3 linked regions of the Homo sapiens genome follow. The protein of the gene in region 3 interacts with the protein of the main gene of each other region in a biochemical or structural test. Each region holds a gene or a part of one and is shown on either strand. Other genes may lie near its edges. The genes, in order: SORCS2, NTRK2 and BDNF.

Evidence for each region.
Region 1: the proteins of BDNF (region 3) and SORCS2 interact in a biophysical measurement, tested with the Homo sapiens proteins (one study listed by IntAct).
Region 2: the proteins of BDNF (region 3) and NTRK2 form a complex in vitro, tested with the Homo sapiens proteins (3 studies listed by BioGRID).

Annotation. Positions count from the first base shown.
Region 1 is NC_000004.12:7,720,538-7,724,137, reverse strand, and holds part of SORCS2 (VPS10 domain-containing receptor SorCS2), read right to left. Parts: intron 442-3,600; coding exon 255-441; intron 1-254. UniProt on the Homo sapiens protein: The heterodimer formed by NGFR and SORCS2 functions as receptor for the precursor forms of NGF (proNGF) and BDNF (proBDNF). ProNGF and proBDNF binding both promote axon growth cone collapse (in vitro).
Region 2 is NC_000009.12:84,721,518-84,725,465, reverse strand, and holds part of NTRK2 (BDNF/NT-3 growth factors receptor isoform a precursor), read right to left. Parts: intron 1,894-3,948; coding exon 1,757-1,893; intron 1,243-1,756; coding exon 1,110-1,242; intron 1-1,109. UniProt on the Homo sapiens protein: Receptor tyrosine kinase involved in the development and the maturation of the central and the peripheral nervous systems through regulation of neuron survival, proliferation, migration, differentiation, and synapse formation and plasticity.
Region 3 is NC_000011.10:27,698,388-27,701,987, reverse strand, and holds the start of BDNF (neurotrophic factor BDNF precursor form isoform a preproprotein), read left to right. Parts: upstream 1-1,532; 5' UTR 1,533-1,824; intron 1,825-2,320; exon of another isoform or gene 2,321-2,582; coding exon of another isoform or gene 2,583-2,606; intron 2,607-3,600. UniProt on the Homo sapiens protein: Important signaling molecule that activates signaling cascades downstream of NTRK2. During development, promotes the survival and differentiation of selected neuronal populations of the peripheral and central nervous systems.

The sequences.
Region 1 (3,600 bases), on a different chromosome or scaffold from region 3:
ACCACCACCACCACCACCACCATCACCACCACTATCATCAATATCACCACCAGCTACCAGCTCTGCCCTACTATTGTATGGGTCATCAGGGGTGCGGGTTTGAGCCCAGCCTCCCTGCCTCCCTGCCCTCGGGTTCACCGTCCTGAGTACCAGGGGCCTAGAGCAATCCCGGGGGCTTCCCTGTGTTTCCCCCAAAGCCAGGTTCTCTCTCTCAAAGGGAGTGACCTTTGGCCTCAAAGGGGCAATAAACTTACAGTTGACCTGGACAAAGAGCACCGCCTCATCGTGGCCTGCCGTGTTCTCTGCCCTGACGGACACGCGGTAGATGCCGGGGCTCTCGTAGCGGTGCCGGATGGGCTCCCCGGTCAGTGTAAGGTTCACGTACATGGCCTTGAAGCCGTCCCCAAGGTCTACCTGGTACTTGGTAGTCAGGACATCACCCTGCAGAGAAACACCATGTGGCCACTCAGGAGTGGGCCTTGAAGCTGAGGGGCCAGAGTGGTTCATTCACTCACTCACTCACTCACTCATTCATTCATTGCCGCCCTCCCTTCCTTGACATGAGTGGGCTCTGGGGACCCACAGGAGACCGGGCCTGGTTCTGCCCTGGAGATTCTTCCTGGAGTATGGGGCTGACCAAGGCAGCTGGTTTAACTAGGGGCTGTGGCCAAGGGATATTTCAGAACAATCACCCAGCGGCAGAGAGGGAGAGGGAGAGGCCCAAGGGTGTCATCAGAGAGCAGCTGGGGGGCAGTCAGGGCCCGGGGGAGACCCACAGAGGCCCGTGCTAGGGATGGAGCCAGGAAGGTGAGGGGCCTCCCACTGCGAGGAGGGTTTCGGCAGGGGAGAGGAACACATCTGGAAGTGCCTAAGCCGCCTGCCTGGAAACCAAGCAGGATTTTCCTTTCTGGGAAGCTGCGGTTCTTAATTTTCTCTTTCTCAGACCATGCGGTACCAGGAGTGACGCTGAGATGGGGCAGGGTGAGTGCAGAGAGGAGCTCCCACCAACTGCCATCCCCGCGTGGCACCGAGTCACCCAGAGAGGCCGCTCCACCATCTCCTTCCACCTTCCAATAACCGCATTTCCCTCGCAGAGGTGGGGGATTGAGTGAAGGAAACAGGAACTTCTTCGATTTATGGCTCATGATCACATTCTCCCTCCCTCCCTTCCTCCTCTCCTCCCCTTCCCTCTTCCTCCCTCGCCGGCACCAGGGGCACGAGGAAACCGTTTCCTAGTGATGATGGAGGAAACAGCGTGATTACTAACCACTTAGCCATCTTCTCAGTTTATACCAGCCAAACGTTGTAAGTTGATAGAAAACTTTTACGTAAATTCTGTTCACTTAACTTTCTCCACAGATGTGGTAAATTGAGCTGGTCAGTGTCTCCCCAAAATTCACGTCTACCGGGAACCTCAGAATGTGACCTCATTTGGAAATAGGGTCTTTACAGGTGTCATTAGCTAAGATGAGGTCATACTGGATTAGGGTGGGCCCTAAATCCAGTGACAGGCATCTGTGTAAGAGAAAGGAGAGGGAGATTTGGGCACGGACAGAGGCTGCGTGGAGGTGAAGGCAAAGGCAGGAGTGACTCTGTCAGGGGCCAAGGAGTGCCGGGAGCCCTGGAAGCTGGAGGAGGTGCAAATGGATTCTCCTTCGGAGACTTGTGTGGGTTCAGGCCACCCGGCATGAGATAATTTGTTATGGGGTCCCTAGGAAGGAGGCTGCAGGGTGCTCCGTTCTCCCCATTTGACAGGTTAGAAGACTGAGGCTCTCCAAAGCCCAGGACCCAGGAGGCTGCTCGCTGGTTGTGGTTCTTTCTGTTTAAAGGCAGCCTCTCAGGGAGGGGCGGGGAATGAGGGGAAGCGCTCAAGTCTGAGCTGCTTCCACGGAGGGAAGTGTTTCCTGTGCTAATCCTGGGAAGGAGAAGGCATGTGTGACCCAGAGTCAGGACTCGTGATCCGCTCAACCTGGGTGAGGCGCCACCTCTCGGGGCCTTGTGTTCCTGCCTTCAAGGGCTGCGCTGATGCACATTTAACTTCTTAAACATTTCAGTTGGTTAAAATAACTTGTCTTTTTCTCCTGACCACAAAAGTAGTATATTCTCAAGGTAGAAAATAATATAAAATACAAATAGTAAAGCAAAGAAAAAGAACAAAACTAAATCTCACCATAATACCCTCCATTCACATCCTGGTATATTTCATTTATATCCATTATTATTACTGGTGCTTAAAGAAAAATTAAACATTGTCTTCTGAGATAATGGTAGGCTCCTATGTAGTTGTACGGAATGATACAGATCCACCCTGTGTGCCCCGTACCCGGCTCTCCCCAAGGCTAACATCTTGCCAAATGATAGTATCACGACTAGGAGGTTAACACTGATACAGGAAAGAGACAGGACAATTCAGCCAGCACTAGGACCCCACCGGGTGCCCTTTGCAGACACACCCACTTCCGCACATTAGCCCAACTCCATGGTAACCATTAGTCTTTCTCCATTTCTATAACTTTGATAATTTCTATTCTCTTTCTCCATTTCTGTATTTCAGGAGTGTTATATGAATGAGTGGCACAGCAGGGGATCATGTGGGAGTGGCTTTTTTCACTCGGCATAATCCACTTGAGGCTCATCCAGGTTGAAGCAGGTATTACTATTATTTTTTTTTTAAGACGGGATCTCACTCTGTTGCCCAGGCTGGAGTACAGTGGTGGGATCTTGGCTCACTGCAACCTCCGACTCCCAGGTTCAAGTGATTCTTGAGCCTCAGCCTCCCAAGTAGCTGGGATTACAGGCATGCATCACCACACCTGGCTAAGTTTTGTTTTTTTTAGCAGAGACAGGGTTTCGTCATGTTGGCCAGGCTGGTCTCGAACTCCCGACCTCAGCTGATCCACCCACCTCGGCCTCCCAAACTGCTGGGATCACAGGCGTGAGACACCGTGCTGGGCCCTGCTGCAGGTATTAATAATGGATTCCTTCTCACTGCAGCATGGTATCTCAGCATGGGGGCACCCCAGCCTGTGCATTCACCCACTGCAGGGCACCTGGGCGGTTTGAGTTTCTGGCCTTTGTGAATAACACTGCTATGAACAGACACATACAGGTTTTTGTGTGAACAGAAGTCTTCATTACTCTGATATGACCGCCATGAGTGCAAGTGCTCAGTCCTCTGGTCGTTGCATGTTGAGTTCGTTAAGAAACTGCTGAAGTGTTTTCCAGAACACCTGTGGCATTCTCCAGTCTCCCCAGCCATGCGTAAGTGATCCAGTGTCCTTCCCTGCATCCTCACCGGTACTTCATGCTGGCGCTATTTTTAATGTCAGCCATTCTGATAGGTGCGCAGTGATGTCTGGCTGTGGGCTTCCCTGGCGGCTGATGGCGTTTGTCATCTTTTCGTGTGCTTACCTGTCATTTGTCCATTCTCCTGGTGAAACGTCTTTTCAGTTCTGCTCATTTCCTAACTGGACGGTTTGTTTCCTTGCTGTTGAGTGTTCTTCCTCTAGTCTAGGTACTGGTCCTTGTTGGATATGTGGTTTGCAAATACTTTCTCTCACTCTGTAGCTTGCCTTTCATCTTCTTAACATGGGTGTTTCA
Region 2 (3,948 bases), on a different chromosome or scaffold from region 3:
GCTCAAATGAATTTTGGGTTAGGTGCTGATTTAAGGACATACAGTTGAAAGTGCTTGCATATGTTTGGAGATAACATTGACTTCAGGCTTCTGAGTGGGTCAAAATGATGAGAAATTATGAGTTTAGTACCCACTGGGCATAGTGATTGTACTAACAATGATAAAGGATTACAGCTGATGATTTCAATCATTCACTCCAGCAATCACACACTGAATGTGTGCTATGAGTGAGTGTTAACCAGCATATTGATACCAGCTATGGCCATGGGTCTACACGTGTGTAAGTCAGACATACACTTACACACATGCATGTTCATGTTTTTCTCATCCAAATTCTAATCCAAATAGAGTAAAACCTCATTAATTTATACCGTGCCAGCTCAGAATTTACAATGACGTGAAGTGTCTATATAGTTTTTACTGAATATACACCTTCATGCTAAAAGCCATAATTTGGAATTTCAAAATGTATATTGTATTAGTTACAATACTGAAAAACAATGTACTTATGTTTAATTAAAAAGAGGGATATCTTTGAACTTAGATTCAATGTATACAGAAATTTAAAACAATAATAATAAAAGTTTTCTACCGGTGATAATAATTTTCAGTAATTTAAGTAGGACTAATCCTACCTTCTCACAGAAACTTGATAACAAAAGAATGAGGTTTTATTTTATCAACAGTACAATTAGGCATTTGTGAACAGCTAGTAAATACTTTAGGTATCATAACTTTAAAGCATCATATTGCTTTTATAGAGGAAGAAAGTTTTAGAAACTGATTTACGAAAATTTAAGCTAAAACATTAACCAGAGGGAGCAACCAGCCCAAAGTATATTCTATCAGAAAAAAGACAGAGGAAGGCACAAAATGACAAGCTCAAAATCGAAAAAGAAGCTTAAAAGAAAAAACATGCATGAGCAAGAGTTATTAAGCAGAAATTGAACAGTAAAAGAGGCTGATAATGTTTCTTAATAGAGTATGCACAAAACACTGCATATACTTTTTTTAACAAATTTAAGCAGCACCCAGAGTGCCCCAGCAACAAACGTAGGTACGTCCATGATCATTTGCTATTAAAAACACATGCCAGTCTGATTACGTACAATGCACAGTGAGGTTGACAGAATCTTGATCTTCTCCTACAAGATTTTCCGCCACACAAGAGATCTGCTTCCCACTGTCATCGGATGAAATGTTAGTTATCCTTAAGGAGCCCTGTGTGTGGCTTGTTTCATTCTACAAATGAATTAACAGACAAAAATAACCTTGATTAGGATTGATCCCAAAGTGACAAGATTTGGGGTTTCTTCCCCTAACTAGAGAAAATATGTATATATAGCATTAGAAAAGCTTCTCTGCCTGAACTGGGCTCAGGCGAAGAAGTAAATCAGAAGTTATTCTATTTCTCTAGGTTTCAATTGCTAAGTGCATGAGGTTGACTTGATCCCTGAATTCCCTCCAAGGGAGAAGACCACAGGGAAAGTCACTCGCTTTGTTCAGGATGATACAAAGAGCTCACTAGGGATATAGAGACTCCTCGCTCTCTTAGGTATGCATAACTAAAATGCAAGCCTGCATTAGTCTTTATTAATTAAGAATAAGTAGAAAGTGAATGTACATCAAAAACTCTTTGTAAATTTCTATATGTAGCCTTATAAAATATCAAATGATCATCACTAGGTTTAATACATTCTCGCATTCTGAAACACTCTTGTCTCTCTATTAAGACACAGCCAAACACAAGCCTTACCATATGTTTGGAAACCAGGTTACCAACATCCCAATACATATTAGGAACCGGATCACCTGCCACACTACAGGATAATGTGATAGACTTTCCTTCCTCCACAGTGAGGTTAGGTGCGGCCAGATTTGCAGATGGCAAACCTATGGAACAAGAAAAGTAAACAGAGGCATATGCAAATAGTTAAATGCAGTATCAAAATAAAAGCAATAAATTGAAAACTGTTTATGCTTTAAAAATCAATCTTTAATTGCTTTTTGAGACTGATTTCTGTTGATCTGAAAAAGTGCTACTTTGATCAGCTTCATAGATCTAACATAAACCAAAAAAAGCTATAATTAGATTTCAAAATAAATTATGCACATTACTTAAAGCATTATTGCCGAATAACCTTTTATTTCAAGAACACTAGTATAAAGAACTGTCTTCCACCTCTTTTCCTGTTCTACAGTTACTAATCCAGTTTTTGCACATAAACAGAGATTGTACATAAGGACTGACATCATGTCTTTTATTTCCTCCTGTCTCCTACCCCCCATTTTTTACTAATGCTCAAGAACACAAAAGGGTGAGATGCACCTATTTTGTTTTTGCAAAAATCTGTTTTTTGCTTTAAGTAACTCTCACAAATCTAACCCTCTACCAGACACAGATTTTGAAAGACTCATTCTATTGAAGAAAATGTAGTTTCAAAGCATTTTTCAAAGACAAGCAGTTTGAACTATTGCAGTGTTAGAAAGTTTCAAAGTTATATAAATCATAGTTAAATATTATAGGTAAAATTGCTATCTTGTTTGGAATATAATGAAAATGGGTTGGACTCATTTCAGTGAAAAGTTCTTTTTATTGGAAAGACTCTGAGAATGTATTTATCAGATGAAACTTTGAACCTCATAAACATTTTTAATAGTCCAGCAAAGCATCATTTTTATACTTTTATATTTCAAAAGCTATGTGTAATTTTAGGGATGCTGCTATCACTTCATGAAATTATCACACCAACTGAGTGTGGACACTGCTTTAAACTGCATAAGAATCATGGTAATTTTTACACGTAGGCATGTCTTAGAGGGTATAACAATATGTCAGGACCTGCTAGTGGAGCCTGTCCCTCTCTTGGTGTCAGGAACTCTGCTTGGGACTATAGTCACCCGACAGCTATGTCTTGAAGAACTATGATACATCATTAACTCAGATCAGAACCTGGAGGTCAAAGAAGGCGATTCATTTTCAACAGCCGTTAAATTGCAATTAACCCACCCACCTGGCAATATCTGACCCTTCGTCTTCACATTATTATGGATAAACCTTTCTCTTATCATGTATTCTTACCGGCAAAGCCATCTTTCTTTATTAGTGAAATCAGACTGGAATAAGATTTGTACAGTCTATATTTCATGGTTATCCCACCACTGGGAGAGGATTCCCCAATAAGATCTGGCTTTCAGGGGCTAGTGAGACCCCCCCTTCCAAACTCTTCCTTCCCGTAAGCATCCAATAGAGACCAATGTTACATCTTTCATGGGGTTTCAAAAAAAAAAAAAAAAAAAAAAAAGCCCCTAATAGCCAGAGTTATACAGGGCAATGAAATATATAACAATGATTAACAGAGTGTAATACAAGCCCCACACCCTAAACCTGGCACATACTAACTTTGTGGCCTTAGATGAGTCTGTTGTTTTTCTCAATGTGTTTTCTTCACAACTTCTATGACAATTAAGCTGTTCAGTTTATTACAGAGCATGTCAAGGCAAAATAGAAGAAATGGGCTTACTTAGTGAAAAATCTCCTTGAAGTCAATGGCATAATCTGGGTGACTTTTAAAAATATGTATATACTTAATTTTGTTTTTCAAAAATCAAATATTTAGTCACAAGAGTTGATAATTCTATAAAAATTACGAAAAAGATTCAAGCTACTATGTGTGAAAAACAGTAGTCCCACCTTACCCATGTGGCACTATTTCCTGTTCCCTGAGGCACCCATTTCATCTCTTTTAACTTCTTCTTTTGGTATTGCTCTGCTCATCACTAAGTATCATTCTTTATTGCTACTTGTTGGTTTTCCTGTTTCAGCAGTATCTATTGACCTCCCACTGTGGAAGATGAAATATAGGCTCGCTTACACACAGAATGCCAGCCCTCCCCATGGCCCCCACCACATTCAACATACTCTGTCTTCACATTTTTTCATGTGCT
Region 3 (3,600 bases):
GGGCAGTGGTGGGGGTGGAGGGCGGGGGAGGATTAACTGAGCCAGTTCTGCCCCCACCCTCGAATCACCTACCCCCACTCTGGTTAAAGCAGAAGACTTTTTATTTATCTTGGCTGCCCTGGTTCGTTATTAAAAGGGTTAGCTTATACGTGTGTTTGCTGGGGCTGGAAGTGAAAACATCTGCAAAAGCATGCAATGCCCTGGAACGGAACTCTTCTAATAAAAGATGTATCATTTTAAATGCGCTGAATTTTGATTCTGGTAATTCGTGCACTAGAGTGTCTATTTCGAGGCAGCGGAGGTATCATATGACAGCGCACGTCAAGGCACCGTGGAGCCCTCTCGTGGACTCCCACCCACTTTCCCATTCACCGCGGAGAGGGCTGCTCTCGCTGCCGCTCCCCCCGGCGAACTAGCATGAAATCTCCCTGCCTCTGCCGAGATCAAATGGAGCTTCTCGCTGATGGGGTGCGAGTATTACCTCCGCCATGCAATTTCCACTATCAATAATTTAACTTCTTTGCTGCAGAACAGAAGGAGTACATACCGGGCACCAAAGACTCGCGCCCCCTCCCCCCTTTAATTAAGCGAAGGGAACGTGAAAAAATAATAGAGTGTGGGAGTTTTGGGGCCGAAGTCTTTCCCGGAGCAGCTGCCTTGATGGTTACTTTGACAAGTAGTGACTGAAAAGGTGGGTTTGTTTTCTTTCTTTCTCTTTCCGTTTTTCTGTTTGGTCGGCTAGAAAGCGTGTGGCTTTAGCGAGGTCTGTCATTGCCTGGGCTTCCTGGCTGGAACAAGTAACTTGGTGTAACGTTATCTGGGGGCGTTCATCAATAAAAAATGCTGTTATTATCTTGATTGAATTCCTATTAGGCAAACTCTAGAGAGGTCAGTGCGCGAACTCTGTTTAAGCCGGCGTGTTTAAGGCAGCAGAGTAAACCAATAGCCCCCATGCTCTGTGCGATTTCATTGTGTGCTCGCGTTCGCAAGCTCCGTAGTGCAGGAAGGTGCGGGAAGGTGTGTCTGTGGCCCGGGAAACGCACGCCCTCTCCCAGAGAACTTGGGTGCTGGGATGGGGAGGAAGGGGAGAGTTGAAAGCTAGGGGAGCGAGACCTCGGGGCGTGCGATTCTCACTCGCTCCCTCCCGCCCCAGCGCCCACAGCCGGGGTTTCTGCAGAGGGCGCGGGACGCGGGGTTCCCCGGGGCTGAGGCTGGGGCTGGAACACCCCTCGAAGCCGCGGGCGTCCTGTCCAAGGCGCCCCAGGAGGGCGCAGGACTCGCAGGGCGATGTCGCGGGGCCCTAGGGGAGGAGGTGAGGACAGGCCCCGGGGGAGCGGGGAGTTCCGGGCGCCCCTCGGTTCCCCGCGCGAGGAAAAGACGCGGCGTTCCCTTTAAGCGGCCGCCTCGAACGGGTATCGGTAGCGCGGGCGAGCGGGGAGCGGGGGGCGGGGGGCGGGGGGGGGGGGGCGGCGCCGTTTGACCAATCGAAGCTCAACCGAAGAGCTAAATAATGTCTGACCCGGGCGCAAGGCGCAGCCTGGAGCTCCGGGTCCCCGACGCTGCCGCCGCCGCGCCCGGGCGCACCCGCCCGCTCGCTGTCCCGCGCACCCCGTAGCGCCTCGGGCTCCCGGGCCGGACAGAGGAGCCAGCCCGGTGCGCCCCTCCACCTCCTGCTCGGGGGGCTTTAATGAGACACCCACCGCTGCTGTGGGGCCGGCGGGGAGCAGCACCGCGACGGGGACCGGGGCTGGGCGCTGGAGCCAGAATCGGAACCACGATGTGACTCCGCCGCCGGGGACCCGTGAGGTTTGTGTGGACCCCGAGGTAGGCAAGCGCTGGGAATGGGGCTTGGTGCAGGAGCTGCCCGTCCGCGGGAGAGAGTTGACTGGGGGATCCCCCACCCCAAAGTTGTGGGACGAGGCCAGTCTCCTTCTTTCCTCCCCTCCGGTAGAAGGGACGATTTGGAGTTACTCTTGGGGAGTTTTCTCCCCCATCCCACAACCCAGAAGGTCAGCCGGCACCACCAGGGAAAAAGGGACCCGGGGAAGTCACGAAGTAGAGGAGGGAAGGCCTGGAGGAGACCCAGAGCTGCGTGATGGGAGCAAAGACGGCGACCCGGGGATCCCTCGCAGCCCTCCCCCAGCCCAGGAGTAGTCGAGAGAGACTTAGGGGGCCAGAGCTGTCGAGGGTCCTGACTGAGGGGAGGGTGCTGGGGCTAGGCTAGGAATCCTTCCAGGGGGTGGGTGGTCCCCGCGCCGACTTGCGGGGGGAGTGGGAGGGAAGCTTGCGCCTTCAGCCCGCATCCCTTCCCCGGAGCTGCACACGGCTACCTGCTCCCCAGGAATTGAGACTGAAGTGGACTTACAAGTCCGAAGCCAATGTAGCTTGGAAAACTTGGGAGGCGGAATTCCTACCGCTGGGAACTGAAAGGGTCTGCGACACTCTCGGGCAGGCCGAACCCACATCTCTACCCATCCTGCGCCCCTCTTCTGAAGCGCCCTCCAGGGAAGTTAAGAGTTTTGACTTTCGGGGAGTGGTTGGGATGTACGTGGGGGATTCTTGACTCGGGTTAGTCTCTGGGGATGCAGAGCCGGGAAGAGGAATGGGTGAGTGAGTTACTCCTGGAAAGAAATAGCTGAGGATTGGGGGCTCTGTGCCTGACGGGCAAGAAGAAGGGGAGATTACAGACTAGGGGCATCCCTAAGGAAGAAGCCTCGGGGCTGCGAGGGTGAACTGGAGGATGCAGTGTTTGTGTGTTGGGGGTAGAGCGGGGATGAGGGACCGGGGTGGAGGGGAGGCGAGGAGGAGGAGGGGACCCAGAGAACGAAGCTAGGGAAGGTAGAGGGTGCCCTCTGCCGGCCATGCTGCCAAGAGCAGCTACTGGGGGCGGGAGGCTGGGGGTGGGGAAGTGGTAAAGGAAGGTTTTGCGGGATCCCTTAGAGAGCTGGTAGGAGGGACTTGTTGAATGGTGCTGCTGACTCCAGCTCGGTGGGGCGTGCGACTCGTCGTCGGTGGATTTTGACTCCTCGTTCTTGTTTGGCTTCTATGCAAGTTTTCCTCGCGCTGGGGGAGCTTTGATAAGCCTCGATTGGCGGTGTGTTAGGGCTTCTTGGATCTTATTTTAGGGTCCTCTAGTTATCCTGCACTTACTCCTTAATGTCAGTAGCAACCAAAGAACATTTTCCGACAAGCACGCAGGAATGTTCTTGGCCAGAAGCAAAGAAAGGCATATTTCTGAGTGTTTATTAATCCTCCTAGTAATCTTTTAAAGCAAAGTAATATGTAATTGGGAACGTTGATTTTCTAACTGCATATAAAAGGCGACATGATATTAAATGAGACCCCTCCCTACTGACTCAATATCCTGCAAAATCTCTCTCTCCCCTTTATTATTATGGAAAAATCTATTTTTATATGAGTTTGTTGTAAGGTCAAAAGCCATTTTGGTCTTACAATTTGATATGTCTTTACATTTTAACTTATTGAGGCATAATTACAGATTTAATTTGTATGAACGTGTGTGCCTTCAATGCTTATCTCATGCAACATAATTTTTAGGTTGGAGATTTCTGATGTTATGGCATGTAGCGTTTCAAGGCA